3 linked regions of the Homo sapiens genome follow. The protein of the gene in region 1 interacts with the protein of each later gene in a pairwise test. Each region holds a gene or a part of one and is shown on either strand. Other genes may lie near its edges.

The links.
Region 2: the proteins of CEP68 (region 1) and PCNT interact in binary tests that used the Homo sapiens proteins (3 or more experiments, as listed by UniProt).
Region 3: the proteins of CEP68 (region 1) and CDK5RAP2 interact in binary tests that used the Homo sapiens proteins (3 or more experiments, as listed by UniProt).

What each region holds. Positions count from the first base shown.
Region 1 is NC_000002.12:65,050,512-65,061,471, reverse strand, and holds the start of CEP68 (centrosomal protein of 68 kDa), read right to left. Parts: upstream 5,057-10,960; 5' UTR 4,944-5,056; intron 1-4,943. UniProt on the Homo sapiens protein: Involved in maintenance of centrosome cohesion, probably as part of a linker structure which prevents centrosome splitting. Required for localization of CDK5RAP2 to the centrosome during interphase. Contributes to CROCC/rootletin filament formation.
Region 2 is NC_000021.9:46,409,558-46,420,223, reverse strand, and holds part of PCNT (pericentrin), read right to left. Parts: intron 9,036-10,666; coding exon 8,157-9,035; intron 7,388-8,156; coding exon 7,232-7,387; intron 4,156-7,231; coding exon 3,385-4,155; intron 2,021-3,384; coding exon 1,918-2,020; intron 1-1,917. UniProt on the Homo sapiens protein: Integral component of the filamentous matrix of the centrosome involved in the initial establishment of organized microtubule arrays in both mitosis and meiosis. Plays a role, together with DISC1, in the microtubule network formation.
Region 3 is NC_000009.12:120,386,445-120,396,903, reverse strand, and holds the end of CDK5RAP2 (CDK5 regulatory subunit-associated protein 2), read left to right. Parts: intron 1-2,265; coding exon 2,266-2,392; intron 2,393-7,116; coding exon 7,117-7,163; intron 7,164-7,611; coding exon 7,612-7,668; 3' UTR 7,669-8,029; downstream 8,030-10,459. UniProt on the Homo sapiens protein: Potential regulator of CDK5 activity via its interaction with CDK5R1. Negative regulator of centriole disengagement (licensing) which maintains centriole engagement and cohesion. Involved in regulation of mitotic spindle orientation.

The sequences.
Region 1 (10,960 bases):
GATCCTTGGGCACCGGGAGCCCCTTCTTTTCTCCCCAGGGCTGCTTCTGGAAGTTTTGCTTAGAGTCAAAAGAACAGAAGGAATCTCCCAGGGCCCTAGGAGGAGCCAGTGGGTCCCTGTAGATCAATGCGGTAGGGAGGGCTGTGGGCTAGGCTGCTTGGCTGTCTGTTCCCTCGCCTTCTCACTCACTTATCTGTTGGCTGACTGACCAGGGCTACCAGACAGCCTCCCAGCAAGGCCAATGTTCTCATTTACAAGGCAAGGTCTTTAGGTAGCCCTTTTTTTTCTTTTTTTTAATTTGAGATGGAGTCTTGCTGTGTTGCCCAGGCTGGAGTGCAGTGGTGCTATCTCACTGCAACCTCCACCTCCCAGGTTCAAGCAATTCTCCTGCCTCAGTCTCCTGAGTAGTTGGGATTACAGGCACCCACCACCACGCCTGGCTAATTTTAGTATTTTTAGTAGAGACAGGGTTTCACCATGTTGGCCAGGCTGGTCTCGAACTCCTGACCTTATGTGATCCTCCTGCCTCGGCCTCCCAAAGTGCTGGGATTACAGGCGTGAGCCACTGCGCCCAACCTAGATAGCCTTTAAAGAGATGTAAGTCACATCTACAAGGAGCTTGACTGAGTCCCAGCTACTCCTCCCCTCAACCCCAAGCTCTCTGGCCTCCTCAGCAGTCAGCAGAGTGTCCATGTGTAACAAAGCTCAATGTACAAGGATGCTGAGGGCTGAATATGTCAATCAACAGCACCTTTTTTCTCACTAAAGAGCAAAGCAGAAAAACACCTTCCTTATAACAAAAGTCACTGTCAGAAGAGGCTGTACCTGGACCACATGGGTGCATTTCCACAGACCACTGCTTTTACTATACTGACAGTTTTTATTTTTATTCATTTATTTTTTTTTAAGAGACGAGGCCTCGCTATGTTGCCCGGACTGGTCTCAAACTCCTGAACTCAAGCAATCCTCCCTCCTTGGCCTCCCAAAATGCTGGGATTACAGGTATGGGCCACTGTGCCCGGCCCTGACACTTTTTTGTGAGGTCATCAGGCTGCACGTATGAAGACTGAGAAGAATCTTACCGCTCTCAAGAGATACTATTAAGATTGCCACTCACTGTACCATAGCATTCTCTTTGGAGAAGCCATGGGAGAATTCTCTGGCCTCAATAACAGAAACAGCTGTCTCCATTCAGCAGACATTTTCACTTTATAAGTACTGGCAAAACTGATAAAAAAAAATTTCCCTCTTTGCTTTGGCTGCTACAAAGCTCAGGGCCAAATACACAATCTCACCTGAGTAAAAGGCATAGGACAGAGAGGTACTTGCCTTTTTGTGCTAATTTCTTCCTTGACTTTCTCCTATTTTTTTTTCACTCCATGTGCCTCAATTGCTGTTATTAAAAATCTTATTACATCAAAGTATGTTGGAACAATTCCTCAAATAGTTTTTTTTTAACAAGATAGAGAAATTGTTAAAACAAAAAATAGAAAAAAGCTCCTAAACCCAAGATTTTATTCCAATACCATAAGAAAATAAAACCCATTTACCCAATACTTCTAAAAAGCAAATGTAGATACTAGGGTTAGCACTTCACTATCAAAGTGTGATCCAGCACCAGCAGCATCTGCATCACCTCAGAGCTCGTTGGGAATGCAGATTCTCAGGTCCTGCCCCAGAACCTTGGAATGAGAACCTGCATTTTAGCAATATCTCCAGATGACTTGGTAAGAAAAATGTTTCAGAAGCACTGGGTTGGTAAGTAAGGCTGTTTCAGCACCCTGAGAAGGAACAACTAAAATAGCTTTACAACCATTCCTTGGGTGCCTATATGCCAGCCACACACAAGAAGAAAATTTATGGCCCTTGTCTTCAAGGCCTTTGCAACAGGACATTAGAAAAGGCTTACACCTTGTGGCAGGTTTTTAATGGCTAATTATAGAATACCACAGCTGAAAGGGAGTCCCCAGAAATAATAGTATTCCCTAGAAAGAATTTGAGATTCATGATGGCTATGTTAAAAACAGAATCACAGACCTGAATTTCTCCTGTGCCAGTTACAAGTGAGGAGGGGAAAGGTATTTGTTTTGGAAACTGGAAATAATTTAAGAGAAACCAATATGCCAAGGGAGCTTACAGCTACAAGGAAATGTGCAACTTAACCTGTTTCCTGTAACCAGAAAGTGGTGCAGGAAAACCTGGAAGTGACGCAGTGTCCCCCAGGAGTTGTATCTGACACTTCTAGCTGGCAGACAGGTCTAAAGCCAACAGGAACATTTCTTGGGCTTTTCATGATGTTGGTGAACAACATTAAAGATAGGAGACAGTTTCTTCATGAGAACAGATTTAAGTTATAAGGAGAGTCCACCTCCATAAGCTCTGCTTCTTTCTGGATGGATCAACCAGGTAAAGATTTTTTGTCAGCCACATGAGGCCCCCATCTATTTAGCTCCTCTGATTTTACATGACCATTTCAGATAACAGACCCCGTTAAGAATGTATCAAGTACTACTGTAACTCTTGGCCAAATTGCTATTTGGCACCAAATCAATCTTTAGTTGGTGGTGAGACTCCAGACACATAAACAGATAATCTTCTACGGAATACTTTCACTGTGGAAAGAGAATCAGGAAAGGCTAAAGGGATGTTTAAAAATCAGACATCAGGCTGGGCATGGTGGCTCACGCCTGTAATCCCAGCACTTTGGGAGGCTGAAGTGGGTGGATCACCTGAGGTCAGGAGTTCAAGACCAGGCTGGACAACATGGCGAAACCCTGTCTCTACCAAAAATACAAAAATTAGCGGAACACGGTGGTGGGTGCCTGTAATCCTAGCTACTCGGAAGGCTGAGGTAGGAGAATTGCTTGAACCCGGGAGGAAGAGGTTGCAGTGAGCTGAGACTGTGCCATTGCACTCCAGCCTGGCCAAGAAGAGTGAAACTCCCTCTCAAAAAAAAAAAAAAAAAAAAAAAAAAGGAAAAAAATCAGCCATCGGATAAGGTGTCAGGCACCGTGGCTCATGCCAGTAATCGCTTGAGCCCAGGAGTTCAAGACAAGCCTGGGCAATATAGAGAGACGTCATCTCTACAACAAAATAGAAAATTAGCTGGGCCTGGTGATGTGCACCTGTGATCCCAGCTACTTGGGAGGCTGAGGTGAGAGGGACTCGACCCCAGGAGGTTGAGGCCACAGTGAGTTGAGATCATGCCACTGTACTCCAGCCTGGGTGATGGAGTGAGACCCTGTCTCAAAAAAAGGGATCGGATAAGGACCAAAAAACAGAGAGATCCTGAAGGGTCAAGTACTATACAGATATTTCATATTGGTGAGTGTATTCAAGTATCCATTTATTTTTCTCCTAACGACTGCTAACAGCTAACAGCTACTGATCATTTTCTTTGTGCCAGGAACTATATTAGGCACTATACATCAATATCTTATTTAATCCTAATAACTCACCACACAGGTACTACTATTATTCCCATTTTTAAGGATGAGGAAACCAAGGCACGGAGAAGTTAAATAACTTAATGACACGCCTGTAATCCCAGCACTCTGGGAGGCAGAGGCAGGAGGATTGCTTGAGCCCAGGAGTTCAAGACCAGCCTGGACAACATGGCAAGACCCCCATCACCATTAAAAAAAAAATTAATCAGAGTTAGTAACATGGCAGAGCTAAAGCCTGTTTGACTTAGAGAGCCTGAGCTTAGCTGCCTTCCTAACCTGTAAGAATAACTCGCTCAAGAAGTTAAATAAATGTTTCTGTTGTGTCACCTTTAGACTACCACGCTGATTTTGTTTCCTTTTGGCTTCCTTCCATCATTGAGTGCCTTTTATGTTCCAAGCATTGTGCTAGGGGCTGGGGAAACCACAATACAGTGTGATGAGTAAAAACAGAGGCTGCAGAAGGTAGCCCAAAAAAGGGAGGAGTTATCAGTCGCAGGGTGGGGAAGTGCTTTAAAAAGCTTTGCGCAAAAGAGGTTAAACTGAATTCCTTGGGTTTTTTGTTGTTGTTGTTTTCTAAGTGGGCCAGAATTGACTCAACAGAGGGTGGGAAAGGGGAATGGAGGGAACAAAGTAAAAAGTGGTGACTTCTAGATCTTTCAACTAAACCCAAGGCAAACTGACCCAACAACCTTTGTTACACACTTTAACACAACACTCTTCATACCCTAGATCTGAGAACTGTTAGATTATTTACAAACGCTACCTCCCTTCGTGGTCCTGATGAATTCCCAGTGAGGTCCAATCTGCCCTGGCAGGCTTCCGCTCATTTTTGTTACAAACAATACACTAAACCCAACCTACTAATCATCAAGGGCCTGGAACAGGTTTTGGACATTCGTCCCCAGGCTGCTGAGAACTGTTCTAGTGATGACAGTTAGAAAGGGTAGCCCTCCGAGGCAAAAAAAATGAGACATCTTGATTTTTTCTCTCCGCATCTGGGCGCGGCGATAAGAAGACATCACTGGTCTCCATCTTTCCAGGGGGAAAGGCCCGAGCTGCATTAGCCCCGACTGGGGAGCTGGGTAAACAGCCCACGCCCGGGAGAGGCCTGAGGGAAAGTGACCTCCCCCGGGGCCCAGGCCGACCAGCGGCGCAGCTGCTCGGCCGCCAGATGCGCGGACTCGCGCACTCCCTCGCCGCGCCCGGGCATTCCCAAGCCCAGCCGCCCGCCTCGGCCCCGACCCCTCGGCCGCCACAGCACACGCCGTTCCGCTCGCAAGATGGAGGCGAAGGCACGAGGCGCCCCCGCCCCCCAGGGAGCCTTTGTGCCCTTGCCGGCGGGGACGCGAGGCCAGACGGCCCGCACCGCAAGGGCCCCGCAGGCACCGAAGAGACGCGGGGGAGGGGGCCGGGCGCGCGCGCGGATCTAGCCCGGGCCACCGCCCCCAGCGCCGCGGCACCCCCGACACCAGCACCCGCACGCGGGACACTGCCTACCTACCGCACCGCGAACGCTTCGCACGTCCGGAGCGGTCTCAGCAGCCCCATGCGCTGGCCCCGAGCTGGCGGACCCTGACTGCAACTGCGGCCCTCCAACCGCAGCCCAAAACGCGCAGGGCAGGACCGAGCGCCAACCACGCCCTTCGGCCGCGCTGACCACGCCCTTCTTCCCGCCCCTTCTCCCTCCGCGGGAGGGCTTTCGGCAATTTCGCGCAGCGAATCGCAGCTCTAAGTCCGCGGCTCCACCAATACGTGGACGCTCCTGCAAGATGAGCCCGCCCCCTACTTCGTCCTGGCCTATGGGAAGCCGGGACTTCTTCAGCGGCTGTCCTCCCTCGCTTTTGGAGCTCCGACCTCAGCTTCGCCTGCGAGCTGGGTTGTGTAAAGGCTGGTCATTTTGGGGCGCTTAGGGGTGGGTGCCGGGGGGCGCGCTTTCCCTCGTGAAGGTCGCTCCAGGAGTCATGCGTACATTCGTTCATTTTGCTCTGGACGCACTGATGTTCCCGGCTCGCCGCCGTGCCGCAGTCACGAGGCTCTCCGAACGCCTTTCACTGTGTTTCTGTTTACATTCGCGTCTGCAAGACCCGGCGGCGCGACCGAGGCCCGAACAGGTGCTGCGAGGCGGGGCGGGGAGCCAGTGCTGAGGGGAGCTCCCCAGGCCGGGTGGTTGAAGACAGCTTCTGGGGGGAGGTGGAGCTCTGGCTCGTGGAGAATGGGAAGGGTGTGGAAAATGAACTGGTAGCTACTTAGCCACTCTGAGCAGCCTGCTCTGATGGGAAATCGGTGATGGAGTCGGAGGGAAGTGGGAGGCAGCTTGTGGGAGGCCAGGGTGCTCACTCTCTCCCCTGCCAGCATGGGACCTAGTAACTTTCATACATCTCTATCTATCTATCTATTTTGCAAAGATGGGGTCTTGCTGTGTTGCCCAGGCTGGGCTTGAACTCCTGGACTCAGACGATCCTCCCGCCTCGGCCTCCCAAAGTGCTGGAATTACAGGTGTGAGCCACTGCATCCCATCCCCTAGGAGCTTAATGACACTGCCCTTTAGCTTTTACTGCTTAGCAGAATCCGGAGGCATAGAGGAACTACCACCAGGGTGGCGTGGGGAAGAGGCCCTCCCTTCTGATGATTTTCTCTCAGCAGCACTTTCAGCAATCTGGCTTCAACTGAATATCTCCCCAGTTCATAAAACAGGCGTCTGTAAATGTCAACCCCAGCTGGGTGCAGGGTACAAATTTTTTCCTACAGAGCTCTTGAGTCCCAGGTAGTTTAGGAGACAAGGACTTGTTTGGTTTTCCCAGACCTGTCAGGACAGCTCAGAGGTTTTGTCTAACCCAGGGGCCACAAACTTTGGACAACAGCAGCAGCTAGCCCACAGATGGTTTTATTTGGGCATCGCATAGCTTTTCTTTGTTTGTTTGCTTTTGTTTTTTAATAAGAATTTGAATCCCACCACCACCACTGGTCCATTAAGTAACAGCCAGCCTTCACACATTTGCTGCCTACCTGAAGGCATTTGTGTTTGTGACCCTTGATCTTTTCTATACACAGAAGACCTCCAGTGGAGTCACCTAATCCCACAGCCAAGTCACCCCTGCTGGACAGAGAACTGTACAAAGTCCAAACAGGCGTACATATCCTGTATGGTTTCCTCATCTATAAAGAGAGGGGATAGGATGAAGGAGTCCCAAGGTTCCTTTTGGTTCTGATGTTCTGTAATTTTGTGTTGTGAGCAGCTTTTGTTTTTGCCTGACGGGAAAACTTTCCTTTGGGAATTGTCTGCAGTCCGCTGGGTCAGATGGTTCTTTAGCACCGCACTTCTCCGGTCTCCCAAGGCAGGATGGGTGTGGAGAAGGGGAGGTGTGGAACCCAGGCCTGACCAGCTGTAGTCTCCCTCCTCTTGTTTTCAGATTTCCCCAGGGATGCGCACATGACCAAACCTGAGATGATCTGAGCCCTTGTCGGGGATTTTAGAGAATGAGGCTGGGAGAAAGAGGCTCTTTCTTTTGGTGTTTCTGAGCGCGGGAAAAGTAGGCCTAGAGCTGTCTGTAGTTATACTCCTTGCAGCAGCAATGCTGGAGAACCAGGCCTGGAAATGTTAGGAACCAGCTAAGCCATCCTGCTTTGGTACTCTGATTAGGGTGCGTACCAGCTCCTTTGGTGGTGACATGAATTATTTTTCAACTCTTCTCACTTAAGATTCAAGTTTTGGGAAGGACCATTTACTTGGCCTAGTCTAGGTTATGTGCCTGTGTTCTGATTGCCAATAGGCAAAGAGAGTTCTGGTTTCTACTGTGGCTTCTAGTCTGGGAGGCCTAGCCTCATACCAAGACTCAGTGTGTGGGGGCCTCCCCTCAAATAAGAAGAATGAGACGCTGGGTTGCCAAAAGTTGCTTCACTATAGTCCGTCTCTTAGGCTGCCCAACATTCACAGAAGTGCTTTCAAAGGTAAATGAAAATGCTGCCATCCAACAAAATGCGAGCATCTCTCCTATAACAAAATTTACTTATCCCTTCCCCAAAGCAGGGCATCTCAAAATCTCCTCATTTACTGTATTTGGCCCAAGTCTAACTTCTGTAGGTGATGTTCCATTCTTCCTTTCAGTTTCATCATCATCCCATCCCATCGTTGTAATGTGTAGACTAAATTGTAAAGTTAAGCATCACTGATAGACTTTAGATACAATTGTGAAAAGAAAGGAAATGAAAGAAAAGGACAATAGCTAAAAACTCCATTTATATATAATACAGCAAGAAGGGAAATACTGTTAGAGGTTACGATCTTCATTTTTGTAACTGGTAATGAAGCTTTATTGTCATTTACAATTTTCCTTCTCCGCTAACCATTCCAGGTCCCTCTTTCCTTCACGCAACCCCTCAGCTGGCCAGGATTCTTTGCCTGGTTGGGTTAAGCAAGCTTTTGTTCTTGAGGAGGTTGCCTGTAGGTAGGTTGTCTGTAGTTTGTCTGTAGGTGGTACAGTACATTGCCATCAACTTGTGCCCTGGCATGAGAGTGATGAGGTGCCTCAGGAGATCTCCTGTGTTCTATTACTGCTCCTCTTGCCTCCGTGGTGTAACAGCAACCCCACTTCCTCCTGAGAGTCAAAATCAGTCACCAAACAACATGTGACCTGTGGCATGAGGAGACCACATCAATTTCAGTTCTCAGTTAATAGGAACCATTGTTGTAGGTTCTGGTGAAAGCATTGTACTAAAATATCTAAACCAGCTGGTTTGAGGAAAAGCAAAGTATAAATTTTGAGAAGAATCATTAGGTATGATTTGAGAAATACCACACCCATTGTTACCAGCAATGATATTCTGCTGTGGAAGAAACTATTGGTCATTGGTTCAGAGTTTTGTCTCCCAGTGGGCACTTGAACTAATTTTTTTTTTTTAATTAAAAATTTTGGTCAGCTGGTGGCTTCTTGCTTGGTGGCCAGGAGCCAGATTTCATTCTGGGCAGGAGCAAGGTGCAGCCAGTGGGAATGCAGGAGAGGCCAGGTGCGTGTTTTGGGACTTTCGGAGCAGCAGCCTGGGAACCAGCAGAGAAGATTCTGTCTTCCAGAGGTTGCCACTGTCTGCCAACTCACTTGTCTCCATCCTCAGTCATCTTTTAAAAGTACATAGCGACACTCTAGCTGTCTGGTTCTTCATGGGGAATGTAATTGAAGTCTGACATCATTCCTATTGCCCTGAAGTCTGAAACTTAGTGTCATTCTCACTGAAAATTGCCTTGGAGTTTGACAAACTCTTTCCCCAGTGATATTGACAGGTTGTTTTGTTTTTGTTTTTGTTTTGTTTTTGAGACAGTGTCTCACTCTGTCACCCAGCTGGGGCTGGAGTGCAGTAGCACGATCTTGGCCCACTGCAACCTCCACCTCCCAGGTTCAAGGGATTCTCCTGCTTCAGCCTCCCAAGTACCTGGGATTAGAGTCACCCACCACCACGCCTGGGTAATTTTTGTATTTTTAGAAGAGATGGTTTCATCATGTTGGTAAGGCTGTTCTTGAACTCCTGACCTCAGTTGATCCACCTGCCTTGGTCTCCCAAATTGCTGGGATTACAGGTGTGAGCCACCACACCTGGTCAGATCCGAGGTATTTTGAACTAAACAGAACAGCAACCAACATCCATATAAAGTAACTACAAGAAAAAAATTAAAAACCATTTTAACTAATGAAAATTCTTTCCACCAACCACAATTCCATCCAACAGCCAAAAAGCAGAGGAAAACTAACAGTATTCTTCATATGAATTAAATATCATTTAGTAAGCAGCTGTAGCTATAAAGAATACCAAAAATCAGACATTAAAAAACTCAAAATAGAAATGGACACAAAGCAGAAAACTATAAAATGAGAACTGATGAAATTCAGGAAAGAAGTAGAAGAAAAAGCCAAAATAATCTTGAGATATGGAAACTAAATTACATTGTGTCCACGGGAAAATAGGTTAGCCTTAAAAGTCAAGAAGGAACATTGAAAATAAATTTAAAACAGCCAAGAGAACCCAAAACAAATTTGGAAAAGAAGGAAAAATATTAGAAAAAAAGTGAGAGATATAGAAGATAGACAGAAGTTAACATATGCATCATTGAAGTCTCCAAAGAAAAGAAACATAACAATGAAAGAAAGCTATAACTGAAGATAGTTTTCTGGATATAAAATAAAACATGAATTTTTGGGACCAAAGGTACCTTGAGAAACACTGAGTCAGTATCATTAGCCTCAGTGAAATGCAAATCAAAACCACAATTATAGCCACTAGGATGGCTATAATAAAAAAGGTAACGTGTTGATGAAGATGTGGAGAAACTGGAACTCTCATACATGGCTGGTAAGAATGTCAAATGGAGGCTGGGCACAGTGGCTCACACCTGTAATTCCAACTCTTTGGGAGGCTAACATGGTAGGATCGCTAGGGCCCAGCAGGTCAAGGTTGCAGTGAGCTGTGATCGTGCCACTGCACTCCAGCTTGAGCAACAGGGTGAGACCTTGTCTCAAAAGAAAGGAAAAAGAAAAAGTATGTCAAATAATACAGCCCCTTTGGAAAGCAGTCTGGAAGTTTCTCAAAAGATTAAGCATAAAGTTACCATATGACCCAGCAGTTCCACTCCTATATATGTATGCAAGGTAAATTAAAACGTATGTTCATACAAAAACTTGTACATGATTGGTTATTGCAGCATTATTCACAAGAGCCAAAAAGTGGAAACAACCCAAATACCCATCAACTGATGAATGGGTAAGTAAAATACAGTATATCCATAATATGGAATGTTAAAATGGCAGTAAAATCAATGCTACAGAATGTAGACGGACATTTTTATACAATGTGGGTGAACCATGAAAACATGCCAAGTGAAAGAAGCCAGTCACAGAAGACCACATAGATGATTCCATTCGTATGACACATCCAGAATAGGCAAATCTATGGAGACGGTGGATTAGCAGTTACCTAGGGCTGCAAGAGTTGAGGGGAATAGGAAGTGACCACTAATGGGTAACAGTTTCTTTTAGGGGTAATGAACTAAATTTGATTGTTCTAAAATTGACTGTGATGATGCTTGCACAACTCTGAATAAACTAAAACCATAGAACTGTGTACTGTAAATGGGTGAACTGTATGGTAGGGAAATTAGATCTCAATAAAGCTGTTTTTTTTAAAAAAAAGATATAGAAGTCAACTTGAAGGACTTTTTTTTTTTTTTCTTTTTTTTTTTTTGAAACAGAGTCTTGCTCTTTCTCCCAGGCTGGAGTGCAGTGGCATGATCTCAGCTGACTGCAACCTCTGCCTCCCAGGTTCAAGTGATTCTCCTGCCTCAGCCTGCTGAGTTATAGGTACTTGCCACCACACCCGGCTAATTTTTTTTTTTTTTTTCCAGTAGAGACAGGGTTTCACCATGTTGGCCAGGCTGGTCTCAAACTCTTGACCTCTGGTGATCCATCTGCCTCAGCCTCCCAAAATGCTGGGATTATAGGCATGAGCTACCACACCTGGCCTTGAAGGAC
Region 2 (10,666 bases), on another chromosome or scaffold:
AATGGAGGAAGGACGAACGAGGAGGAAATCCTCCACCCCGACCGCGCAGGCCTCCAAGGTCGCGTGTCACTGGAGGGCGCAGGCACAGAGGCGGCGGACACCCTGACCGCGCAGGCCCCTCAAAGGTTGTGCGTCACTGGAGGGCGCGGGCACAGAGGCAGTGGACAGGCACGCGATACCTTCCAACCCAAGTGTCTGCACCCAGCCAACCAACCGACAACCACCAGGGAGACGAGGAAGTTCTCAAAAACAAGCACCTACCAGACACCTTTTCTACAGAGGCTTCTGGGGACATGTTTCCTTAAAAAAGAGGGGGCTGGCCAGGCGCAGTGGCTCATGCCTGTAATCCCAGCACTTTGGGAGGCTAAGGTGGGAGGATGACTTGAGTACGGGAGGTGGAGGCTGCAGTGAGTCGAGACTACGCCACTGCACTCCAGCCTGCGTGAGAGAGCAAGACCCTGTCTCGGTAAATAAGAGACCGTTGAGGAGGGGCAAGGGGCCGCCTGGGAGCCCCTGAGAGTTGTTGGGGAAGCACCTGCTGTGCTTGGAAGGCTTGGATGACATTCACCTGGACACTGTGTGCGAGGACAGCAGTGAAGCACACAGGAGAAACTGAGCCAAGAAAAACAAAAGTGGCTCGAGGGGGACGCACGCTCCCAGCGGCTCTGCTGGAACACGGGGCGCGTCCTTTAAGGGCAAACCTTGGCTGTGACAGCACAGGGCGTGCAGACTGCACCTCGTGTAGCAAGGGGCGTGTGGCGAGGGGCTAGGAGGGCTGAAGATGCCACTTTAAACAGCAAATAGAGTTTGAAAATAAAGCAAATACGAGAAGACATTTCTGAGAGTTGAATGTGGCATCCCCAGGGAGCTGCAGTCCTGAGTGGGGAGCTGGGACACAGGCTGCTCAGGAAACGGTCCCCTCAGCACCCATAACTGTCACCCTGCGTGCTCACTATTCATCAAATAAATAAAAACAAAATTAAAAAGCTGCTGGCCCTACTCTGCAAATACTAAAATTTCTAATTAAATTGTGACCATGTTCTCAAAAAACACTAAATCGCTGAAAAATCCAACAGATTTTTTAAAAAGTTAGAGCACCTCAAAAGGTGACTGACTTGTAAAAAGACAACAATTATAGAAAAAGTTATGAAATGAAAAAAAGGACGGTGTGGCAGGTAACCGCCACAACAACTGATGCGGGCCAGGGCAACCAAGGGAGGCTGAGACCAGTGGGCGTGAGCATGAGAGGGAAGAGAATACTCAGTCTCCGCATCTCCCACAGAAGGAGGTGGAGGAAACCTGGCAGGCACCATCACAGACAAAGGCCCAAGTCAAGCCCACGCACCTCCCGCCACGAGGTCCGGGGAGACGCAGCCCCCCACGCACCATCGCGAGGACACGCCACAGTCAGCGGCCCCTCGGCTCCTCTCCAGGGCCGGTGCCCCGAAACCCACAGCAGAGAGAGGGACGTCCACCCCAAGGGGAGGGAAAGGCAGGGTGGGCAGGCAAGGCAGCAGAGCCTGGAAACATGGCGTGCACCGCCCCAGTCTCCATCCTGCCAAAGACACCTGAACACAGCCTGTGAGCTGGGGTGTCTTTTCCATAAAGGACACTACTGGGACAATGGGTGAATCTGAGCAAGGTCTGTAGCTGTAGCTGAGATGCCAGCCTTGGATCAGGGTGAACATTCCAGGGTGGAGCGTGGCCCGGGCCAGCAACCTTGGCTCTGTGAAAGGTACAGGCGTGTTTTCAGAAGTCAAGAGGCCCCAGGTGCACGCCCGACAAAGCGCAGAGCCGGGGTGGAGGTCAGCGGGGGGCAGACGCAGAACCAGGCAAAGGATGCAGGAATTCTTTTGACTATTCTGTGCTAGGAAACCACTGAAATAAAAAATTAAAAATGAAAGATAACCAACTCACTTTTCTCACTTCTATCAGCTTTTCCTTCTAATCCAGGAGGAGGTGAACTTAATGTTTCTTGAGAATCAAAGGATGTTGTGATAAAATCTTCGACATCTTTCTCCTGTTAAGAGATTTTTAAATGGTCATAAAATAATGAGTAATTACATCATAGCGCTGACTTTGCCAGGTGAAAACTTTCAAAGGCCTGAATTTATCTTCCCACATAGACCCCAGATGAAACAACTCAAAACTGGTGAACACACAGGTCGAATGCTTCCAACAATTTAATCAGATTCACCCACAGCTCTTTAGGAATATTTTAATGTAGCCAATAGTAAATATTTCAGATTTAAATTGTTTTGCATGAAATGATAGTATATGGATGTTTCAGATAATATGTATCTGCTAAATTATTATTTTTTGAGGGAGGGTCTCACTCTGTCACCCAGGCTGGAGTGCAGTGGTTCAATCTTGGCTCACTGCATCCTCAACCTCCCAAGGTCAAGTGATCCTCCTGCCTCAGCCTCCTGAAGAGCAGGGACCATGGGCGGCACCAGCACGCCCAGCTAATTTTTTGTGTTTTTTTTGTAGAGACAGGGTCTCACCGTGTTACCCAGCCTGGTCTCAAATTCCTGGGCTCAAGCAATCCTCCCGCCTCAGCCTCCCAAAGTGCTGAGACTACAAGCATGAGCCCAACCATACCTGATTTTTAATTTTATCTTACTCAAGATACACAAAATCCCAAAATGATTATGTTAGAAATAATACGATCTAACTCATAAATTAAAATTAATTAGCATATGTGAAACCTGTTAAAAATATGAAGCATTTCTGGCTGAGCATGGTGGCTCACGCCTGTAAGCCCAGCACTTTGGGAGGCTGAGGTGGGTGGATCATGAGGTCAGGAGTTCGAGACCAGCCTGACCAATAAGGTAAAACCCCGTCTCTACTAAACTACAAAAATTAGCCGGGTGTGGTGGCGTGTGCCTGTAGTCCCAGCTACTAGGGAGGCTGAGGCAGGAGATTTGCTTGAACCTGGGGAGGCGGAGGCTGCAGTGAGCCGAGATTGCGTCACTGCACTCTAGCCTGGGTGACAGAGCGAGACTCCATCTCACAAAAAAAAAAAAAAAAAAAAAAAAAGGAAGCATTCCTAAAAATAAATCTAAAAAACCATTCTGGACAAAGAACCCTATGCCCATCACACACGAAGACGTGTCTGGGCTATGCCCGTTGGAGTCAGCGTCAGTGGAGAAGCATGCCCAGGGTATGTCTGAGGCAGGCAAATGCATCTCAGGCATTTTAAAAATACCTGAACAACTGAAATAATCTAAATGCGCCCATGATGCCAGTCCTGCAGAGCTGGCCCCACACAGCACTGCGAGGTGTGTGCTGTCAGGAGGTGAACAAACAATGGCAGCTGCCGTGGCGCCGGGCAGACCACATTCCCACGGGAACAGCAGGCCTGGGAGCAGAGCAGGCACCTACCACAGCCGTCCTCTGCACATGGTGGTCGTCAGCCGGCGGAGACTCGGCCCACTGCAGTGCCAGCGCTGCTGCAGACACGCCTGGGGAACAAAGCAGCCCCGGCCCCTGGGTCTGTGGCAGCGAGGTGTCCGCCCTGTCCCCCAGGGATGTGTCGGCACTGCACAGGCTCAGGGCTCCTGAGTGGGGTGTCACGGGGAGGCTGGGCCAGGGCTCCAGGGTCCAGTCCTTCCTGAGGACCTCAGGGGAGCTCCAGGAAGACAGGTCCAGCATCCCGACCGGGCTCTTCCGGGGCCCAGCCTCTGCAGTGTGGCTCTGGTGGCGGGAGCCACCAAGTACGCTGGTCGGTGAAGAAAGAGACATGTCCTGACATTCTGATTTTTCTTGAATGGGAGAATCTGGCATTTCATCTGGTATCAAGGAATCCCAATTTTTGATAACATCAGTTACACCCCCTGGGGTTGTATTGGCATCACACGCGTCTATGGCCTGATTTTTGATAACATCAGTTACACCCCCCGTGGCTGTATTGGCATCACATGTGTCTATGTGGGGTGATATGTCAGGCTCTTCTCCGTCACAGGAATCATCACTCCAGCTGCTCTCCAACAGGTGTGCTGAGGCCATGGGCCACAGAGATTTGGTGTCGGCAGCATCCACATTCTGGAAGGTCATGGAATACAGCAAACGGTTCAGTTTTTCCTGAAGCTGTTTCACCTGAGCTACGAGATCGACCTTCGGCAGCTGACAATCTTCCAGTACTTTTTCTTTACCCTGCAGGTGAAACAGAACAGGTGCACGGTGGAATACCTGGCTCACCAGGAGTCGCACCTGTCTGGTGTTAATGAGTGGATTTCAGGGAGTTTCGGAGCACTCGGGTGATTCCACAATGAGCCCTGCACATTTCAAGTTTATTTAATTCTATGAGAAACAGAACCAAGGCTTACATCTCCTTGCTTAAAAGGCAACTGTCATAACCTATTTCTGCGGTGATTGAGGACACAAGCTTCATACAAGGGAAAAAGGATGGGAAGGTTCTATATCTGAGCACCGAAAACACAAAATTGTGGTTTATGTGATGAATTTGGAGTTTCTGTGTGTGTAACTTCTAAGAATTTGGCAGGCAGGGCTGAGCTTTCTCTTAAGAATTCAAAAAATTGGGCCGGGTGCAGTGGCTCACGCCTGTAATCCTAGCATTTTGGGAGGCTGAGACAGGTGGATCACGAGGTCAGGAGTTCGAGACCACCCTGGCCAAAATGGTGAAACCCTGTCTCTACTAAAAATACAAAAATTAGCCAGGCATGGTGGCGGGTGCCTGTAATCCTAGCTACTCGGGAGGCTGAGGCAGTGAATTGCTTGAACCCAGGAGGTGGAGGTTGCAGTGAGCCAAGATCTCAAGATCTCGCCACTGCACTCCAGCCTGGGCGACAGAGCGAGACTCTGTCTCAAAAAAAAAAAAAAAAAAAAAAAAAAAAAATTCAAAGAAACGTTCCTGTCATGAGGGCCCCAAGACTGTTTGCCGCAGGAGATGCGAAGGGCTCTCCACACAGGATGTATTTCCCGAGAGCACATGACAAGCACACGAACCAGGTTCATGGGTCTCCTCAGAACTGCGGGCCTAGGCCCATCCTTCCCTGATTTCTGTGGAATTAAGAATCTTTCAGGCTCTAAACGCCAATGAGGTGCACGCAGTGTGGACCCAGGAACAGGCGGCACCTGCACTCATGCAAGAAACGTCCCAGCGACGTGCGGGACACTCACGAGGGCTGCGAGGGGCTCGGGTGAGCCCAGGTCTCAGCAGGCTTCAGCACCAAGCATGCTTCCGTGCCACCCTAGAGACCATAAAACACCTGCCCAGCACTTCTGGTGTTAGAGCCTCTGGGTTTCAGAGCCTGGAGGAGTAGTTGGGGCACATTTAGCAAACAGCAGGGAGGAGGGGGAGGAGGAAGAGCAGGGTGGGTGGCTGTGTGTCCAGCAGGAGGAGGGTAGGTGTCTGTGTGTCCAGGAGGAGGAGGAGCAGGGTGGGCGGCTGCATGTCCAGGAGGAGGAGAGTGGGCGGCTGTGTGTCCAGGAGGAGGGTGGGCGGCTGCGTGTCCAGGAGGAGGAGGGTGGGCAGCTGTGTGTCCAGGAGGAGGAGTGTGGGCAGCTGTGTGTCCAGGAGGAGGAGGAGGAGCAGGGTGGGTGGCTGCATGTCCAGGAGGAGGAGAGTGGGCGGCTGTGTGTCCAGGAGGAGGAGGAGGAGCAGGGTGGGCGGCTGCGTGTCCAGGAGGAGGAGGGTGGGCGGCTGCATGTCCAGGAGGAGGAGGAGGAGGAGCAGGGTGGGTGGTTGTGTGTCGAGAAGGAGGAGGAAGAGGAGAGTGGGCGGCTGTGTGTCCAGGAGGAGGAGGGTGGGCGACTGTGTCCAGGAGGAGGAGGAGGAGGAGGGTGGACAGATGTGTGTCCCAGAGGAGAAGGAGGAGAAGGGTGGGTGGCTGTGTGTCCAGGGAGGCTGCGCTGGGCCTTGGACTGGAGGAGGCGAGGTGCAGACAGTGCATCAAAAGGTGCCATCTAAGGCTGGGCGTGGTGGCTCACGCCTGTAATCCCAGCACTTCGGGAGGCTGAGGAGGGTGGATCACCTAAGGTCAAGAGTTCAAGACCAGCCTGGCCAACATGGTGAAACCCCGTCTCTACTAAAAATACAAAAATCAGCTGGGTGTGGTGGCGCATGCCTGCAGTCCCAGCTACTCGGGAGGCTGAGGCTGCAGAATCACTTGAACTCGGGAGGCAGAGGTTGCAGTGAGCTGAGATCGTGCCACTGCACTCCAGCCTGGGCGACAGAGCAAGACTCTGTCTCAAAAAAAAAAAAAAAGAGAGAAAAAAAATAAAGGTGCCATCTGCACCTGATGCGGCCTGAGGAGAGGGCAGCTCCTGCGCAGGTGTTTCCTAGGGGCACTGGGGACCTGCCCCTGGTGCACTGGGTGGGAGAAGCACCAGCACCCGCTTTTCTCGCTAAATCTCCACCCTGCTACAATTTGAGATGGTCAAGGTGCAACCTCCTTCCCCGGGGAAAAGAAGTGCCAGCTTTTTTTCAAGTGACAATATGGAGTGAGGTGAACAGATTACAAGAATAAATCTGAGGCCTTTCAAAGTAAAACAGACGCTGGCCATCAAAGTCCTGAGCTGAGGTGAGGCCCACGGGGGCGATGTGGTCCTCCCATGAAAAGACAAACCAGGACTAACCCTCGAGCACAGTTAAATCCATTTGGATCAATTACAAGAAAAAAACCCAACTGATTGTTTCTACAGAGTGGCTTAAATGAAGCACGTACGAAATTTCACAACAGTTATGGACAGCTCGTTACAGAACAGAAAGGATTCAGAGAACATGTCACTGCAGGCACGGACTGTGCTCCTCACCTCAGCAGAATACCCGCCTCTGCCCAGGGCAAGACCCACATGTTCTGCACCCAGCCTCTCCCAGGGGGGCCTCACGCCTTCCCCCCTCCCCACACCTTGCTGCCGCGTGTCCAGCCTCTCCCGGGTGGGCCTCGTGCCTTCCCCGTTCCCCACACCTTGCTGCCGCGTGTCCAGCCTCTCCCAGGGGGGCCTCACGCCTTCCCCCTCCCCACACCTTGCTGCTGCGTGTCCAGCCTCTCCCGGGTGGGCCTCGTGCCTTCCCCGCTCCCCACACCTTGCTGCCGCGTGTCCAGCCTCTCCCGGGTGGGCCTCGTGCCTTCCCCGCTCCCCACACCTTGCTGCCGCGTGTCCAGCCTCTCCCGGGTGGGCCTCGTGCCTTCCCCGCTCCCCACACCTTGCTGCCGCGTGTCCAGCCTCTCCCGGGGGGACCTCGCGCCTTCCCCCCTCCCCACACCTTGCCGCCGTCCTCCAGACTCAGGCGCATTTCATTTTTCACCAAGAGCAGCTCCGACTGCAGCTGCCTCTGGCAGACGGTGAGCACTGACATCACGCCTTCTTGCTTGCAGAGAGGTGCATCCTTCAACGTCACCAGGACAGGCTGCAGATCACCCTTGACAGAGGAGACAGAGGAAAGCTGAGCATGCAGGAGGCTGTTGCTGGGGCTGCCCCTCAGGTGGCCTGGAGCTGGGAACCAGTACGGCAGCCAGCAGGGATGCCAGAGGGAGGTGGCAGTGACATCCACAGCCGAGCACCTTGGTCCACAGCAGGCCACATGGGAACGGGGCTGAGGACCCAGCAGAAAGCTGCCCCGACCCAGGACGACCCCACAGAGCAAGGTGGACTGGGGCATCTGAGAGTGGGAGCCACTCTACAAAGACCCAGCTGGTGTGGGGGTGGTAGGCACCAAGTTCCCAAGGTTCTGCTCAAATACAAGTGGAAGCCTTAAAAGACGACTCCCTACAGGGCCTCCAGCTCCAAAAGAAGAGCTCGCTCGCCACATCTCACACAGGCACTGCTCATCGACAGACAAACCATTTGGTTAGAAACCAGAGAAGCAGCTTAAGCGGACCCTCCTCACATAGTGAGCTCCGTTTCACTGGACAGTCCCTATTATGTGAAAGAAAGAATTGTTTTTAAAAGCTTAAAACGATAAGCTTAAAATGGTACAAAACAGTGAAATCCTCAGCCCAGCTTCACTGCGTACTGACACGGAACAGGCCCAGGCTGGCCCGAGCTTCAGGCCCCCTTTCTCCGCTGTGTCATGAGCCACCATGACAACTGCAGCCCCCAGTGCCCAGCGCAGAGAGAAGTCATTGACATCAAAGGAGAAAAGGAGAGTAAAAAAAAATACCCTGCCATGGCCCGCGGGGGGAGCCCACCTGTGGGTCAGGGACAACCGGCTCCAAAGCAGCATCATGGGAGGCCTCCACGTCGCCGGTGACCTGGGCCTTGGCGCCACCATCCATGCGAGGCTGTGGGTGGGCCCCGGGCACCCGTGTGTGAGCTGTGGCTCTGCGGGCCTGCCGCCTGTCCAGCTCCACCTGGCACCTCAGGAACCGCTGGTGCAGCACCTGCAGCTGGCGGCTGAGGCGGGCACACTGCGCTCGGAGCCACTGCAGCTCGGGAGGCGCCGCCCCGGCTGCCAGGGGCTGCTGCTCCAGGGCGCGGCGGATGCGGGCCAAGGCCAACAGGACGGCCTCCAGCTCGGCAGAGTGGGCCGCCTTCCGCTGGTTCAGAGCGTCGATTTCTAAATTTCTCTCGGCAATCGTCGCTTCCTTTGCTTTCAGGGCCGCTTCGAACTCCTGGATCCGGGAGGCCATGTCTTCGACCTCAGCCTCCCTGAGGGCTACATTGCGCTCCAGCTCAGCCAGCTGTAGCTCCGCAGCCTCCTCTGCGCCCTGGAGGCGCTGCTGCAGGGCCTCCAGGGCCTGGCTGTGCCTGCGCTCCTGGTCAGCCAGCAGCCGGCTCAGGGCCTCCTTGGCTTCCAGCGCAGCCTCGAGCTCGCCCTGTAGGGCCTGCCCACGAGGGCCCCCGGCCTGGGAGCAGAGCAGCTCGCTCTGCAGACTGCCAGCCTGACTGTCGCTGACTTCGTGCACCACAGGCCCCATGAGGGACAGCTCGTGCTGCAGCTTCTCAATGACTTCATGGAGTTGTTCAATTTCCTCTGCTTTCTCCTTTTGTAATCGTTTCTGATTCTCTTGCAGATTTTCAATAGTGGCTTTCAGCTCTTCAATCTCAGAACTTCTGGTATATATGACCTGAAGAGAGAGGACATTTCAGAGGCAAATTAAATGTATCCACTTCCGAATGTCCCTACTTCAGGGCACGTTACATCCTGAATGCATTCTTGGAGTGAAGACTCCATAGCGTGAAAAACAAAGCAGCCATAGAAGCAAACTGCTGGTGCCGGATGCACTCCACACCCACCTTGGCTGCCACTGGGCCCTGGTGCACACCTTGTGCTCCACGTCTGATCGTGGGACGAAGCTCTAATGCAGTCATTTTCCATGCAAGGACATCTACAGAATGATGCTTTCACCACCCTTTAAATGTTATTTTGTTAATATTTAAACAACTTTGATTTGTTTGATTTTCCTGAAGGTGCATTAGATTTTAGGTGTCATTCTGACTCCAGGAGGAAAGTAAGAAACCTAGGCAGAGAATCTGCACCAACAAAGCGGTGAGCCGGGCACGCTCCCCTTCCATCCCAACACTGCTCGTGGTGACGCTGGTGATGAGGCGTCTCTGCCACTGCCACTCGGTGACACCAGGCATCGAAGTGAGTTTACTTGTGCCATGAAACATAATCCTCAGCCATGTAAGGAAATACGATTGTTTCCACTTTAAAGACAGGAAAATTGAAACTGAGATATTAAACATCTTTCTAAACCCATAAAAACAGTAAGTGGAAAATTAGGATTGAGATGTATGTCAATATAGCTCCAAACTCTATTCTCTTAAGATAACATTCCTGGTAATGACAAAAAATAGAAAAATTCTAATCCATTTGTGCTCTAACAATTTTAAAACTATTTGTTATAGACTAATATGTTCTTCCAAAAAACTGAGGGTTTCATAACAACTCCAGGTTTCTCTGGAACTACCTCACAATTACTCTGGACTCAAATGCAAATCTGGCCTACAGAAAAAAAACAAAGGAACCGGATGAACCTGTGGCTTTGGTTTGGACGCTGTCAACAACACCTTCCTATGCATTTACCACCGATGAACAACACCATGCATTTAGCAAAAGCAGCCTCCCAGCTGCGGGCTAGGAATGCCCGCTGCACATTCTGCTCCCCGTCGCGTGCCTTACTGTGTGCGGCACCGGCCGTTGTCTCTGTACTCTACAGGCACGCGAAGGAATTTCGAGGACAATTCTGATTATACGCAGCTTCTGCTCATTCCCTAAATGCACTAAATAAACTGGAATCAAGGGGTGCGCACTGAAGACGGTCATAATCACAACGCATATATCACGTTAAAATACTGGAGCCAGCATACGAAGGTAGCTCTAAATGTAAAACACCAAAACCTGAAATCAGTGAACTGAGGCCGGGCGCGGTGGCTCACGTCTGTAACCCCAGCACTTTGGGAGGCTGAGGCAGGCAGATCACTTGAGCACAGGAGTTCAAGATCAGCCTGGCCGACACGGTGCACCCTGGTCTCTAGTAAAAATACAAAAATTAGCCGGGCGTGGGCACCTGTAGTTCCACCTACTCAGGAGGCTGAGGTGGGAGAATCACTTAAACTCTGGAGGCAGAGGTTGCGGTAAGCCGAGACTGCGCCACTGCACCGCAGCCTGGGCGACAGAGCAAGATAGTGTCAAAAAAGAAAAATAAAAAGCAAAAAGCGTATGCAAGCATATTCAAGGAGACCTGAATGCAAA
Region 3 (10,459 bases), on another chromosome or scaffold:
GGGAGTGGTGGAGCTGTACTTTGAGCCCCTGCTGTTGCTACCATGGAATATTCATCCTATAAAATGAAGATTTGAATCCAGGGGAACAACAGACATGTAAACAATTAAAATTCCCTGTTGTAAGTACTGGATAGAATATATACAGGATGTTAGGAGAGCACTAGTGAAAATTAATCCACCATGAGTGGGTAAATGGTGTCACAGCACCTACTCTGCGCCAGACACTGGTGGTTAGAGGGAGGAAATGAGTGTGTGGTCAGTACAGGAAGCAAACAAGTAAAGGACCAGTCACTCCAGTGTGCCATGGGCGGTGATGGGGAGACACTGAGCCCCGGGGCACCCAGAGGAGCAGTAGCCATCCTAAAAGAAGTGCCAGGTCAACTTCCTGGAAGAGGTGAAACCTGAGCTGACTTTAGAACAAGGAATGGGTCAGCCAGGCCAAGTTGGAAATGATCATTCCCACTGTCTTCCATTATCTCATTTGAGTCTCACTCTACTGCAATGTGATAGCTGGATCAGGGATGATTATTCCGATTTTACAGATGTGGGACTAAGGCGTTGACTGTAGAGAGACTTTGTCCTGGAATGTGTGGCCTCTGGAGCCATGACCAGAACCTAAGTCTTTGTGAGCTCTTAGCCCCAAGGAAAAGAATCAAAGCAAACCTAATGTTTAAAATTAGGATCTGTTTGGGAAGAACTGTCAAAGTCCTTGTACCTGACATGACTGGTTAATCTTAAAAGTAGGTTAAGTCAGGGAATCAAAAATGATATGTACCTTAAACATTTTAGTTTAACTTAAAACAGATAAATGTACATTCATTTGCCATTCTTTTGATGTAGGGCCAGGGCCTTTTCTTTTGAATATGGGTCTGCTGATTGGAGTTTCACATCTTCTTTCTTTCATAAACTGCATCCATAATGTATGTCTGTCACTTCCAATTTCTGTTTCTTTAAGATGAAGAGAAAACTTAGACACTTGCAAAGCAATTTGAATATAGAATTCTTCTAGACTGTGTTCCTCCCACATCTTTTATAGTTGTCTCACCCACACCTAATTTGCCAGAAATGTGTTTTTTAGTGACTTGCTTTTATCAAGTCTTTCCTGAAGCATATGTTAGTTTTCATACAACCAGTTCTCTCTTTTAATACACATATTTCATGGGCTTACTTAATATTTAATTAAATTATGCAATTTGATTACAAGTACAGCTACCATAAACAAGTTTGGGAACAAACTAAAGTGACTCTTCGTGAGCTGACAACTCACCAGCTCTCCTGTTGGAAGCAGAAGTGTTTCGGCGCAGCAGAGAGCGGCCTGTGCCACGGTGCTTTTCTGACAGAAAGGGAGTGTCCTTCCCCCTGGGAGCTGGTTTGGTGGAGACTGGCTCAGAGGGCTCCGCCGTGCATGTATGTCACCTCAGAGCACTGGGGACTCTGGTTTTGCCACCCATCCAGAGTTTACTCTGGAAAACCAGAAGAGTTTCTTCTAATGGAGCATACTTTCCTAGTAATACTTTTATATGATCTTTTGAAGATTTAAACATTGAAAAGTTTTTAAAATCAGCATTATAGTTTTTGTAAAAGAAAAAGATCACGCAATTTGAAATCATAGCTCATGGAGAGAATTGCTGTTAACATTTTGATGACATCTCAATATACACATCTATGGATGTGGGCGTTTATATTCAGTTTTGTGGAACAGGAATGCCTTTTATACAGGACGTGTTGTTCTGGGCTCTTTTGTCACTAACTGTGATCATTTTTTGATATCAATGCATAGAGCTCTACAACGTCATTTTTAATAGTTGCTAAATTATTGTATTATATGTAAGTACCATAATTTATCCAGATCTATACTGAAATCAGGTTATTTTTTCCTACCATGAACAATGCTGAGACGAACATCCTTGTACATAGGCATCTTCTTGTGCTTATGTTATTATTCCTTGGGGGAAATGCCAGCGTGTAGAATTGCTGGGGCAAAGAGTTAAGCGCATCTCAGTTTGGTAGATCTTGCCAGGGCGTTCTCACTGGGCCATGCCATCCCGCACTTCCACCAGAGGTCACGAGGTGCTTTCCCCTTACCCTCAATGAGTTTTGTCCAATTTTGCCTTTTCCTGGTTGTCAGGAAAAGGCTTCTAGTTTCCATTCAAATATTTTTGCTAGTGAGGTTGAGCATCATCTTTTTATATGGCTTTGTAATTCTTCCTGTGTAACATGATGTTTATGTTCTTTGTTCATTTTTCTAATTTCTCTTCTCTTTAGATTGGAGAAATGAAGGCAGAGGTCACCAAACTACATAAAAAATTGTTTGAACAAGAAAAGAAGTTGCAAAACACCATGAAGCTTTTGCAGCTGAGCAAGCGCCAGGAAAAAGTCATCTTTGATCAATGTGAGTGAGTGTGGGGGTGGCCGCTATGCCTGACCACTTCCTGCCTCCGAGGGCTCCCAGTTCTGCCCTGGATTACCCACTTTGGAGCCCAGATGGTTTGTAATCATGCCTCCTATCTGTGGGCTTCTTTTCATACTCCATCCTTTCTGACTCACATAGACAAATGTATTCACTTAACACACCTTTGTAGAGCGGCCTTTTGGTGTCAGGGACTGTCGTCTCACTGGGAGACAGTCGTGTGGCATGTGCAGTGATGGGAACATGCAGAGCACTGGGGTGGGAGTTGGGTGGCCGTCACTCTGTCCCGGCAAGGTGGGCGTCTTAGACAAAGTGACCACCTCGCTGAGTGTGAAATGAAAGCAGACGTCGTCACATGGAGCGGGGAGTGGCAGTCCCTCAGGGAAGAGCATGGACAGAGGCACAAAGGCAGGAAATAAGTTTTTGTATGTGAGAAACCAAAACCAGTCCCTGTGGGGTAAAGGCTGCAAACAGTGAATTAAGGTGGGAGGGATTGGGGGTCAGGGAGTACTTCATGAAAGACTGTAGGTGGCAGGCTCAGGGCAGAGGATTGGCCTGTCACATCTGTGTGCAAGAATGGCTCGCTGGTGGCTGCTCCACCAGTGAGGGGGAGGCTGACTCACTAGTCAGACAGGAAAGGTGGCTAGGACGCTGGGGATCCAGAGGAGGGCATGGATTTGAGAAATACTTCTCAAGGCAGATGCCGAGACTCAGGGTTGGTGAGGTTAAGTAACTTTTGTAAGGTCAGTCCCAGTTCTGATCTAGCCACTTTGGAGATTGTTTGGGAGCAGCTCTGTCTCCTGGTTTAAACCCTCAGCACTCCCTCCCGCTGCATTTAGAGGAGCAGGCGGTAGCTGAGTTTCCATTAGTGCCTGTTGGCAACATGGCCCTGGCCAAGCCTGCGCTGTCTGTGTGTCAGTTTCCCTGTCTTAAGAGAACTGCTGACTGCAGCACTTTTTCTCTGGAGGTGCCAGCCTGCCTTGTGCGGCTCTCCTGTCAAAGTCCAACATTTCTGGGGCATTTCTGAGAAGCACAGGACAGAGATTATTGCCAAGTAGGAGTTCTCCTTAGCCACCCCTGGGAACCTTCTGAAAATAGACTCTGTGAGACTGCCAGTGTTTGGACTGCAAAAGAGAGGAGCGCAGCCACTGAGCAGGCACTGAGTTCCTGTTCTTTGCCCCTTACGCCAGGTCCTGGGGACAGAGATGAACGAGACAGTCTTTGCCAGTGAGGGTCGTGGGCTTAATAGGGGAGACACAGAGCTTAGCTGCAGGACGATGTGCTGAGTGCATCCTAGGAGGCCTGAGAGGTGGTTCAAGACTGACTGGGTCTTGAAGAATGACTAGGAATTTGTCAGCGAAGGGGCAGGAATAGGATTCTGGCAGATGGCCCTGTGGACTTGCTGGTGTGCTCCCAGGGGTGAGAGAGAACTGAGTGCTCAGGGACATGCTTAGGACGTGCAAAGGGTTTTCCTCTGAGAGATGAGTGAGAGGGAGAAGCAGGAACCAGGTTGCAAGGAGCCTTGTGGACAGGACTCCAGGACGAGCAGCAGGGACCGGCGGGGTCCATGCGTGTATTACAAGATCCCATGGCTGAGCTTGGAGGGGCCAGGAGGCCGGGAAGACCTCTTTGGGGGCTGCAGCAGTCCCCCAGGTGGGCAGTGGGTCAGGACTGTGGGGGAGAAGGGATGGTTTTGAAAGATTGTAAGGAGGTCAACCTGGCAGAGTGGTGGATGTCTGTGGGGTTCTGGTTGAGGGTTTCGTGTCACTCGTAGAGAAAAAGAGCACTGAGGGGAACCTGGAGAGAGACAGTGCCAGCTGTGGTCCTGTTAAGGCAGCTGTGGAATATTTAGGTTAGACTCTTGGAGCAGCAGTGGGGTGGGGAGCAATGCTCTGCATAGGTCTAGAGAAAGGCAGAACTCTCTGCATTGGCATCTCTCCTCCTCAGCAGCCTTTGGCCCTGAACAGTCACAGGGCAGGTAGCTAACCCTATTGACAGGTGAGAAAATTGCAGAAGTAGGTTTCGATGGGTTGAGTACTGTGGTCGGTCAAAAGGACAGAACTAGAACCCAGATCCCCTGTGTCCTAGGTCAGAGAACATGGAATTATTGATTGAGCACAGTTCAGATCTCCATTCTCCTATGTGACCTGCATTAGACTAGAACCCTAAGCTTTCGATTCCTCATCTCTAACTGGAGACGTGAGTTCCAAAGGACTCAGACTAACTAGTTGGTCCCGGGTTCAATAGCAACTTTATAAAAAGCACCCCAGTTTTCTCATCTGTAAAATAAGGATGATAACGCTACCTAAACTGTATTGTACTTAGCACAGTCTCGGGGGCAGAGGAGATGCTCAACCAGTCCCTCCTCTTTCTTTCCATTAGGCCAGACCAAATCCTATGCATGGAGGTGGCAAATCATTCATAGTAAGAAGAGCCGCAAATGTCTCATAGCACTTCCCCTCCTGAGCTGGTATTGTCCATCTCCATATCTCCTAGGCCTGGCACAGAGCAGGCTCCGCCAGAGCAGGGTGAGGGGCTTGCTCCAGGCAGCATAGCTGGTGGCTGACCCGGGCCTGCAACTCCTCCTTTGCCAGGCTCTGCAGCTCATCCCAAGGAGTCAGGTCCTTGGAAATTCTCCAAGCCCTGCGGACTTCACAGACCTGCTCTGGGTCTAAAGGGACTAGGAGAAAGTTGGCATAGCACCTCCTCTTCCTCCGTCCCCTCATGGTGATGGGGAAGAGCAAAGGCCAGGGCTGATTGCTACCTGGTCAAACTGACACCATACCTTCTCAGAGTCTACAGGGGAAAGTAAGGAAAAGGCATCCCAGTGGGACCCTAAGAGTCCTGATGCCCTGGGGCCACTCACTGGCCATGTGACCTGGAACCAGCTGCCTCAGGTCCTCATTTGCAAAGCGAGGACAGTAGTTCTGCCCCATAGGGTGGGGGAGTATTCAGTGAGGCCACCGTTGGAAACCACCTGTCACCAGGTCAACACTGCTCAGCTCAGGTCGGTACCTTCTTCCCAGCACTCTGCTGAGGTGGGAAGAACCATGGACTGAGTTGGGCAGGCCCACATGTGAGTCCCAGCTCTGTGCTGGGGCCAGTCTAGATTTGGGACGAGTCCTTTGTCGCTGTGTTCCTCGGTCTTCTCCTTGCAGTGGGGATTTCTGTGCTTTGGAACGTGGCAGTGCTGTTGAGGTGTAGGGGTCCCCTCAAAGCTTGAGCCAAGTGATCCTTAGTTCTTCTGCCATGAGCTTTGTTCTCTAGGGACATGGAGTGCTCTTTCACAATCATCTTCAACCTCCACAGCTGTGATACTTAATCTTTTCTGGGTCTCAGGCCCCTTGGTGAATCTGGAGAAAGCTGTGGTCTCTCTGTGGAAAAATGCGGACGTCCAGATACATACCCCCATTTGCACACAGTGTCGGAGGGTTTAGGACTGACCCCCCAAACATATCCAGGGCCCCATGTCAGGAACTTTGCCCTGCAGCAGGAGGTCAGGTTGGGGTAGAGGGGCAGTGGCCACCTCTGAAAGTCGTTTTGCTTGGCTAAAAACAAAGTCCACACCGTCTGTCCCGTCCCCAGTGTCACAGATTGCAAATAAACTCCATTACCTCCAGATGGAAATTTTCGTGAGGCAAGAAATCAATATTTTCTCAAGGCCACCACACGACAGACACCTATTCTGAAGAAGCCACTGGGGAGTCAGGCTATGTGTGTTGGGCGTTGAGTCTGTTACAGCCTCTGGCACTGTTGGCTAAAGGCGCGGCTCCAGAAGCCTTTGGTATTTCCAACGTGGGGAGTAAGCTGATCTTACTCTCACCAAGCCCTGTTGAGAACAGATTCCCTATCAGGCTCAGAACTCTGATCAAGAGGGGCATTCTTGCCACTGCTGGAGTTTGTGTTGGACAAGAAAAAGCCTGAAGGAAGACCCACCTTTACAGTTGCTCCTGAAAGCCAGGGCTCGCCTGCCCCTCCTGGGAATTCTCATGCACGGGGGATCTTTCTAGTACAGTGCTCCGGGCGTCAGTGTCAGCAGGGACCTCTGAAACCATCCCACCCAACCAGCTCTTGTCCAGGCAGAATGTGACTTGCCCAGAGGAATCAGGCTGGGCTATTCCACCAGCTAAAGGGCAGGCAAAGGAGAAGCAGCATGCCCACGGTTTTTTCTTCCAGGCCATTTGGAGCTGGCTCTAAGAGCTGCTGGGTAAAAACCTGGCTTCGTAGAACTTGGACCCTCATATGTGGGTCTGCCTGATCGGGGCACAGTCCCTTCCCACAGCTGCTTCCCAGAGGGCCTAGGAAACTAAAGAGTGCTGGGCAGGCCCAGGCCTCTACCCTCCCTGCGCCATTGCCCTCCCTGGCCCACAGAAGTGAGCCTGAGGGATACCTGGACAGCCAGGTGGCCGTGCACAGCTGTAGGGTGTTCTCTGAACCGGCATAGCATGCTGTAGCCTCTGCATCACTGTCAGGTGGTGGCTTAGCGGGGCCTCAAAGAGGTGTTGTTGATGCGTTATTTGGCCCTGGGGTTTGTGATGGGTCAGGTGGGCCCTTTGTACCTCCCTCTGGTCTGGATGCTTCAGACCTCGTGTTGTCTACATGTCCGAGCCCTTTGGGGTGGGGTTCATCCTCCCTGCACTTGGCTTTCACACAGCTCTCCTGGATATCCATGGCCCTAATCATTGCATTCTTTGCTCTCTCCTCAGTGGTCGTAACCCACAAAATCCTTCGGAAGGCCAGAGGAAACCTGGAGGTATGCCCTTTGAGTCTTTTCACTGCAGGCCAGTGGAAGGTCAGGAGGAGTGCAGGGCCAGAAAGGACCTCTTGAAAAATGAAGGTGCAGGTGGAACCAGGGGACATGTCCTCCTCAGAGAGTTGTTTCTGCCAGCAGTGCATGAAAAGTTGTGTTTTATCATGCCCTGTCGCCAGTAGGGGTTCTAAGTTTTAAATTTGTATGCTATTTTTACCAGTAAGAAATACAGCAAACAATGCTTGACACATAGTAGGCATTTGATGAATATTTCTTGAATGAATGAATACAGTATGATCTCATCGTTGTTTATTAGGTAAATATTTACTGACCAAACTATGTTTTTGAAAGCACTTTGAGAATAACAGTCTCGCTTTCACCTCTGTCGGGGTCTTACTTCAGAAACCTCCTTTGGACTTAAAATTCTCCTTTTTTTTCTTCCTTTTCCTAGCTTAGGCCTGGGGGAGCCCATCCAGGAACATGCAGTCCCAGCAGACCAGGCTCCTGAGAAGAACTTTCAGCCAATAAAGCTTGTGCTTCCCCCACCGAGCTCACGCTGTCTCTTTGTTCCAAGTGTGGTTCCTATTTATTGAGGAAGAAAGAGCTGTCTGGCCAAAGGAAATCTATTTTTTCCCTTCATGTTTTCTCTCTGAAAGTTGGCTTGAGAGTTGTTGTCAGAAAGGTGCAGGTGCTCCACAAACGGGTGGTAAAAAGGCCTCGAGCTCTTGGATGTTGTATTTCAGATCAGGGGCAGGCACCGGAGTTGAGGCTGTGCGCCTTGGTGGGCTTCACGTCTTCCCCTGGATTTGCTTAGTACTCAGCCAGTGCCACAGTTTGAAGATTCTCATTAAATGATTCATTTCATTTCACCTTGACGATTCTGTTGTTTTGTGTGGCGCCTCAAAGCCCAGGTCCCAAAATCCCAAGTGGGACAGGCCAGGGTTCCACGAGTCGCATGGCTCACTGCTGAGCTCGTTCAAGTGTCCAGAGAAGAGCACCTCCGTGCAGCGTGGCCATGGGCACTGGTGTGTGCTCAGCATCTCACAGTCTGCTGGACAGCAGCCCTTGCAGTGGTGCCATTCCCGATTTAGCAAAGAGCAGAGTGAGGCCCAGAGCTGGAATGTGGCATTTGCATTGTTCCCGTGATGACAGGGGTGTGTCATCAGCCATCCACATCGCTGCCTCTGACCAAGATGCCCCCAGCCAAAACACTTTAGCGGCTTCCCACTACCCTCTGATCCAAGCCCGAGCCCCTAACAAGGTTTACAAGCCTTGCTGGCACCTCCAGCTCCTTGCCCATCTCGCCTCCTCCCGCTCCACTCTGTGTTCCAGGCAAACGGAACAGTGTTCTCCCCAGTCTAACCCAGGCTGCGCCCTCTTGGACATGCTCCTCCCACCCTTTCTTTTTCTAGTTAGCTTTGAATGGTCCTTTAGAAATATTTTTTCTGCCCTTGGGGAAGCCTCTCCTGACCCGATACTAGGTGAAATGCCCCACCTCTGCTCCCGCAGCCCCCACACCACTGTGCAAATCCTCTGAGCCCCTGGAGAGCAGAGGCTTGTGTTGACCATGGAATTGCCAGCACCTGACCTGGCGCCCAGCTCCCCAGACACGATGGTGAGGGGAGGAGACGGGATTGCACTTGCTGGAAGCGTAGGGTGCAGCAGCCCCGGCTGGGAGTCCGGGGAGTGGCCTCATGCCACTTTGCCTGTCTCCCCATCCATTAAGAGAGGGGCGGAGGAAGTGGGCAGTACAGACCCTTTCTGCTTCGGTTCCTGCCATCTGTGCTCTTCCTGAGAAATATTTGCACAGGTGTACCTCGGTAGAATACGTACCAGTGTGTGAAAACTCAGATTGAGCCATAATGTCACTGGAGTGCCTTTCGCAAGCAGTCACAACAGTTGACTTCCTAAATGGAAGCTGGGTCGGTGTGGCGCTGTGGAGCAGGAGGCCTGGTTCCCGTCCCGAGTCTTGTGCTTCTGTAAATGAGAGTTACTCTTGTCCAGTACTGTTACAGAGTTCGGAGCCTCAGATTTTGAAAGCAGCTGAACAACAAGGCCCTTTCCACAAATCGGTGACTCTTCTTCACTGTCTCAGTGGCTGGTCTTAAGCAAGTTTTAAAGTACTGTTTTAAGTTCTATGGCTGTGTTGTGCCAAACCCCTATTAACCTCAGTAGGGGAGGCACCAGGTTCAAGGGGCCTGAGAAGAGACCCACAGAGCCAGCAAACAGGATGTGGGCTTTATTAGGGGCTTACATACAGGGGAACAGTCCAGAGGCGGCAGGCTGGACAGGAGAACTGCTTTTCGTACAGAAACAGATGGTTCAGTGGCAGCGGCTGAACAACACAGCCCACGGCCCAGGTGGGGCAGGAAAACCATCACCACTTATAAACAGCATGCAGTTTATATAGCATTTTCACTTAACCTTCCCCCAAGGACCTCTACCTGGGAACCTTTTTTTAACCCAAAACTCAGGGCCTCAGTTCCCTGTACAGCCCATGTCCCATGAGACGGGCTTGGGGGCTCAGATACTCCTCACAAACAAGGAACAAATCTCCGGGTTGGCCACTCCTAGATTCTCTAGCTCAGAACAACATTAAGACGCGTCTGCCATACAGGGTCGTTCTAAGGTTGTGCTTAAGCTATTGCTGTCAGGGTGTTTACCCTCCAGGCAGGTGTGCGCAAATGTAAGCATGTGTGGTTGCGGGGGCAGTGGGGAGGAGGGGAGGAGGTTGTACAGTGTAGTAGATGCAGCTCAGGCAAGGCCTGGAAGTCAGACCTGGGCTCAGATGTCCCCACAGGGGAAGAGTCCTACCTTGCCTGGCACATGGTCAGTGCACAGCCCATGGGAGCTGAACTTGGTCATTGGCAAGGGCTTGAGGTGCAGGGATTGGAGGAGAGATCCACATTGGATTCTGGTACATCCCAGGCCCGTCTGGTTGGTGAACCCAGGCACGCCTGGAGCAGGAGCTGCAGAGGAGGGGCTCCAGGAGCCCAGCTGGCCATTTGCTTCAGGTCACCCACAGCTTTTCAGGAACACAATAATCTAAAACGAAGTGCATTTTTATCCGCCAGTTTAGAGTCACGTAAAATACTTTCAACCTTGGGCTAGTGAAGGCCCTCCCTCTTCTGGGAGGTGGAGGAGCAGCCTGGTTTGTTTGGGCTGGATTAATGCCAAGAACAAACTGCAAATAAGACAATTTGGACCTTGGAAAAAGCTCCATTGTCCCTGGTGAGTTAATTTTACCAGCAGCTGAATTCGGGAGGCTTTGAAGCAGTAATCAGAAAATGCGTCAATTT